2 linked regions of the Homo sapiens genome follow. The protein of the gene in region 1 purifies or fractionates together with the protein of each later gene. This does not show direct contact. Each region holds a gene or a part of one and is shown in the gene's direction. Other genes may lie near its edges.

Evidence for each region. The genes of interacting proteins can lie anywhere in the genome.
Region 2: the proteins of ITIH6 (region 1) and NHSL3 purify together in Homo sapiens (affinity purification with mass spectrometry; one large-scale study listed by BioGRID and IntAct). This does not show direct contact.

The regions. Positions count from the first base shown.
Region 1 is NC_000023.11:54,753,256-54,756,755, reverse strand, and holds part of ITIH6 (inter-alpha-trypsin inhibitor heavy chain H6 precursor), read left to right. Parts: intron 1-1,646; coding exon 1,647-1,739; intron 1,740-2,790; coding exon 2,791-2,826; intron 2,827-2,991; coding exon 2,992-3,105; intron 3,106-3,500.
Region 2 is NC_000001.11:32,772,830-32,775,470, forward strand, and holds the end of NHSL3 (NHS-like protein 3), read left to right. Parts: intron 1-35; coding exon 36-58; 3' UTR 59-2,141; downstream 2,142-2,641. UniProt on the Homo sapiens protein: Able to directly activate the TNF-NFkappaB signaling pathway.

The DNA.
Region 1 (3,500 bases):
ATTAGAGGCCTTGGGAGAGGAGGAGTGTTGAGACTGGGAAGGCTGAACAGAAACAAATTGGCCAAGGGTTAGCTTTGACATTTGTTTTGTTGGACAAAAGAATTGCTGATGCTTCCTAAGCAGGGGAGGAATGCATCATTGGATGAGGCGGGTCTTATTGGTTTTTCTGTGCTCTGTGAATAGTCCTGCTTAATGACAGGGGTAGAAGAATTGGGGAAGATAATTAAAATTATCTTTAATTTCCAAAAAAAGTATGAAATAATAAGTTAACATTTGTGAGCTCTTCCTATGCACAAGTACTGCTCTACATACTGTACTTGTCCCTCATTTAATCCTCACAAGAAACATCTTTCTTTCTTGACATCGTCATTTTACACGTGAGGAGAATGAAGCACAGAGAGGTAAAATAAGTTTCTCAATGTCACACAGCTAGTCAGAGAGTTGAACTCATACAATCTGGTCACAGAATGAATGTGATTCACCACTCCAGTATCCTGCCTTCCTAAGAGAAGGAGTGACATTTCCTAGGTGACCTTATAGGGCAGGATTAGAACCCACTGAGAGTGCCTAAGTCACAGGGATGCAAATTTGGGTATGACATCCTCTACATGCCTCTCTCCTCAGACACCCCTCCAATATCCTATCCATCCTCAGTTATTGACAATGCTACCTCTAATATATTTACCAAATCCATCCACTTCCCACCACCCCAAGTGTCACTGTGCTACAGCAGACCACCATTGTGTCTCACCTAGAAAACTGTTCCAGGCTCCTCACTGGTTTCCCTGCTTCCTCTCCTGTCCTGTTACAGGCCAGTCTCTCCCAGCAGCCAAAGGGATCCTTTAAAGACACAAATCACTTCATGCCCCTTCCCTACTTAAAATCCCTCAAGGGTTTCCCATCGTACTTAGAATGAAGTTAAAAGTCCTCTTCATGGCCAGCAGGCTCTGCATGATCTGCTCCCTACCCCCATTCCTCTATGACCTCACTCTCTCCCACCCATTCTCTGAACTCCAGCCCCACTGGTCTCTATTTTGCCCCTCCAATGAACACCCTACCCCATCTCCACTCAGGGACTTTTTTCAAGCTACTGTCTCTGCTTCATAATCATCTGACCTGCTTTGTCCTACCCCTTCCTGCTGCCCTTATCCCTTCCATTGCCCTTCGAACTCCAGCTCATGCCTTAGATCTCAGCTCAGATCTCCTTACCCACCCTCCCCCAAGCAGGCTACTTCAGGTCTCTGTTTAACTCCCACAGTCACCTCATTATTTTTTTCCAATAGCATTTATCACCATTTGTGATAAATTATGATTTCATTCATGTCTGCCACCCCCTACTAAACTATGAGCTTCACCAGGTCAGAAACTATGTCTTTATTTTTCACCACCATATACCTAATACCTAAGCAATGCCTGAATGAATGAATGAATGAATGAATGGACAAATGAATGTATAAATGCTATAAGGAAGAACTTTGAACATATCTGAGCTTGAGAGATTAAGAGGCTGTGGAGAGCATAAGGTCCCAGTCCTGGAGATGGGCAGGTCAACCTGCAGAGCCAGTGAGGGCTCTCCTTGTCAGAAAGATTTTGAGACTTTGCCCCTGGAATTTGAAGGGTTTTCTTATTTCTTTTGTGCTTGGCAGGAAGTCCAAACTGGGATGGCAATTCTGAGGAGATCCTGGGAGGAGCTGGAGGCAGCATGGAATCTCAAGGAAGTTCTGTGGGGTTAGCAAAAGGTGAGCAAGGAGCTCTCCTGACAAAGATCCCCTGGGCCTTCATTTCCATTCCATTAGAATTCTTATTGACATTGTGGGAGACCAGAGGGAAGTAATGTATTAGTTTTCTATTGTTGTGTAACATTTATCACAAATTTAGTAGCTTAAAACAACACCAATTAATAATCTCACAGTTCTGTTAGTCAGTAGTCTAGAAATAGCTTAGTTAGATTCTCTGCTCAGGATCTCACAAGATTGAAATCAAGGTGTCTGTCACACTGAGCTCTCATCCTCTTCCACACTCATTCACGTTGTTAGCAGAATTTAGTTATTTGTGTTGCTGGGACTGAGGTTCCCATTTTCTTGCTGGCTGTTGGCTGGAGGATCGCTCTCAGCTGCAAGAGGTTACCTGGGGCCACTCTCAGTACCTAGAAATCTCCTGCATTCCTTGCCATGTGGTCCCCCTCCATCTTCAAAGGCAGCTATGGAGCATTCCCCTAATGCCAAACCCTTCTCACACTTTAAATTTCTCTGACTCCTCTGTCTCTGACCTCTAGATACAAATATTAAGGGCTTACGTGATTAGGTCAGGCCCCACCTGGATAATATACCCTTCATAAGTTCAATAGGGTCACATGAAATAACCTATTTCTGGGAGGATATTTCATCATATTCACAGCTCTGGAGATTTTACAGAGTGTGTACACCAAGAGATCCTGTGGGCCATCTTAGAATTCTACCTACCACAGGCAGAGAGCAAGAGAAAAGAGCATTTGGGCTGGCCTTGAAGGATAACTAGAAATTCATCCTTGGTAGTTAAGGGAAAGGAAAACATTCCAGGTGGCAGGAAAAACAGGAGTAAAGGGTCACTAGGAAGAGAAGGTAGGACACTCATAACAATAGTTTGGTTGGGCTAGAGCACAAAGACTGGAGAGCTAGGCAGGGACTAGATTTCAGAAAAGCCTTAAATGCTGAACACAGGAATTTGGCCCTTATCTGGGAGTATGTCCCAGAATTCCTAGGAATGTGATACATTAGTCCCTTCCCAACACAGTCTCTCTCTCCTTTGCAGGCACATTGCCTAGCATCTTCACCTTCTCCTCCTCAGGTAAGCCAGTCACCCCCATGGCTCCCCTGTTTGAGTACAGGGCAGCTTGTGCACTGGGACTGGGGCTGGGGAAATAGACATAACCTCTTCCCTTTCCCTCCTCTCTCTTTCCCTCTCCCTTCCATTTATTCCTTTAACTTTAGAGTTGTATCTTCTGCCTTGCAGTGGACGGGGACCCCCACTTTGTGATCCAAATCCCACACTCAGAAGAGAAGATCTGCTTCACACTGAATGGGCACCCTGGGGACTTGCTGCAGCTCATAGAGGACCCAAAGGCAGGTAAGAGCCCCAAGAACTCCATCACCATACACCAAAGCTGGATATATCCATGTCAATACCCCTAGACATTTGTGGGTTAATACCCCAGACACATAGCAATGCACCTCACTAACACACGGTAACACACAAGAACACACCAAGACACACAAAAAAACACACATGAATACACTCAAACACCAAGATACTCACAGATACACGCACAAAAGGGCATAGAGTAAACTCACACAAATATGATGGAACTTCAAAAAGTTTGTGGTAAAATGGAATTAAACGATAAAAAATTAAAAACATAAACATTGTTTCTCAACATAAGCTCCATCAAGTACAAGATAAGCAATGATAGCAGCCATTTAGTCCATCCCTAAAGAACTGAGGGTCCTGGGAATTTAACCATG
Region 2 (2,641 bases), on another chromosome or scaffold:
CCCCTTGCTAAGTGTCTCTTATTTTTCTCCCCCAGACTCACAGAAAGAGCTGGCCTGACCACCAGGCACCTCACTGGCACTGCTGACCCATCCCAGAAACACAATCTCAGGGACCCGAGCAGCTCCAAGGACGAGAGGATACAGCAGACACAACCTAATAGAGAGGGCGCCTGCAGCCTTAACCTCCACGGCCTTCGATACTTATGCAAGCCTGGTGTTGCTCCTGTCCTCAGAGTCATCCTGCGCTCATGCCTTTTCCCGAATGGGTTCACCTCTGGCAGTTGCCGCTTCAGTCTTGGCCTTAGCCTCATCTTGAAGTGGGTAGCTGGCGGGAGAGGGTGGCTGCGCCCCCTGCTGGCCCTGAGGCTGCAGAGTTGGGAGCAGGACACCTCACCTGAGTTTCATTTTTTTTCATGTCCAAACCATGCACATACTATAGTCCAGAATCAAAGCACTTTTGAAAAGTGGCTGCATGGCCATCCTCCAGGGCCCAGGAAGTTGCATTCCAAGGGCCTGTTTACATGGCAGCAGAATCCATCCCCGGCAGTCAGCCCATAGCTTGGGACCAGTCTGTGCCCTCCTGCCCAGTCCAGTTTACTCCTCTTGGTTCCTGAAGGTGGCCAAGTCATTGTGTTCCCACAGGCTTCTCTAGGCTGGGGGCAGGTGTGGGGCTGTGGAATTCCAAAGCACAAAAGGTGCAGAGGGGATTGGCCTTCCTGTGCCTCAACTCACCAACCACCCTCCTGCCTTCCAGTTCTGCCAGGTGCTCCATGCTGGGGACAAGTAGGAGACTGCCAGGGCCCAAAGAAATGGGTGAGCAGTAGAGTCATCTCGGGGCACTTGGCAGTGTCAAGCACCTGCCCCTTGCCTCCTTGACCACACTGGGGTGGGTGGGCCCCCAGCACTTCAGAGGCAGGAGCCTTTGGGCTGAGCAAGCACTGAGGAGGTGGATGGAAGGGAGCATCTGGAGGGGGGGAGCTTCCTTGAGCAGTGGGCCCAGGCCTGGCCCTCCACACTTCATTCTCTGACCTTTCTCTCTCCTCATTTCGGTGCATGTCCTTTCTGCAGCTGCCTTTCAGCACAGGTGGTTCCACTGGGGGCAGCTAACGCTGAGTGACAAGGATGGGAAGCCACAGGTGCATTTTACTCAAGTCTTCTCTAGTCAATGAGGGGCACCCAGTGCTTCTAGGGCAGGCTGGGTGGTGGTCCCCTAGGTATCAGCCTCTCTTACTGTACTCTCCGGGAATGTTAACCTTTCTATTTTCAGCCTGTGCCACCTGTCTAGGCAAGCTGGCTTCCCCATTGGCCCCTGTGGGTCCACAGCAGCGTGGCTGCCCCCCAGGGCCACCGCTTCTTTCTTGATCCTCTTTCCTTAACAGTGACTTGGGCTTGAGTCTGGCAAGGAACCTTGCTTTTAGCTTCACCACCAAGGAGAGAGGTTGACATGACCTCCCCGCCCCCTCACCAAGGCTGGGAACAGAGGGGATGTGGTGAGAGCCAGGTTCCTCTGGCCCTCTCCAGGGTGTTTTCCACTAGTCACTACTGTCTTCTCCTTGTAGCTAATCAATCAATATTCTTCCCTTGCCTGTGGGCAGTGGAGAGTGCTGCTGGGTGTACGCTGCACCTGCCCACTGAGTTGGGGAAAGAGGATAATCAGTGAGCACTGTTCTGCTCAGAGCTCCTGATCTACCCCACCCCCTAGGATCCAGGACTGGGTCAAAGCTGCATGAAACCAGGCCCTGGCAGCAACCTGGGAATGGCTGGAGGTGGGAGAGAACCTGACTTCTCTTTCCCTCTCCCTCCTCCAACATTACTGGAACTCTATCCTGTTAGGATCTTCTGAGCTTGTTTCCCTGCTGGGTGGGACAGAGGACAAAGGAGAAGGGAGGGTCTAGAAGAGGCAGCCCTTCTTTGTCCTCTGGGGTAAATGAGCTTGACCTAGAGTAAATGGAGAGACCAAAAGCCTCTGATTTTTAATTTCCATAAAATGTTAGAAGTATATATATACATATATATATTTCTTTAAATTTTTGAGTCTTTGATATGTCTAAAAATCCATTCCCTCTGCCCTGAAGCCTGAGTGAGACACATGAAGAAAACTGTGTTTCATTTAAAGATGTTAATTAAATGATTGAAACTTGGCTGTGGCTACTGCTTCTTAATGTGGGGGGGACAGGGCAGTGGTCTGGGCCCACATTTAGAAGGGAAAATGTTTTGCCTGCTGCACACATTGGACCCAAGTATGGGCCTCTTCTGCCTAGTACTGCCAAAGGGACTGTTAAGGTGTCTTGTCCATCTTCTACCCCCCACCCCCCATTACAGGGTAAAGGAACCCCAGACTAGGTGAGGGGCCAGCAGCTGCCTCACACTTGTGTTCTCTCCTGAGATGGTCCAGCTCACATCCAGACACCCTTGTTCAGACATTTTATTTGAATTTATGACAGTGATGGGGATTTGACTGAGATGCCTTATGGAGAAGTACCCCACCCTCTATGAAGACAGAATCACTCTCTGCCATTCATTCTGCCTGATGCTAACAACACGCAGCTGATTTAGGGAGTGTCCCAGCCTAGCTGGATCAAGGGAAATTCCAGGAGCCCTGGGGCAGGCCCTGGCCCCCAGTGCCAAGCCTCAGAGTAAG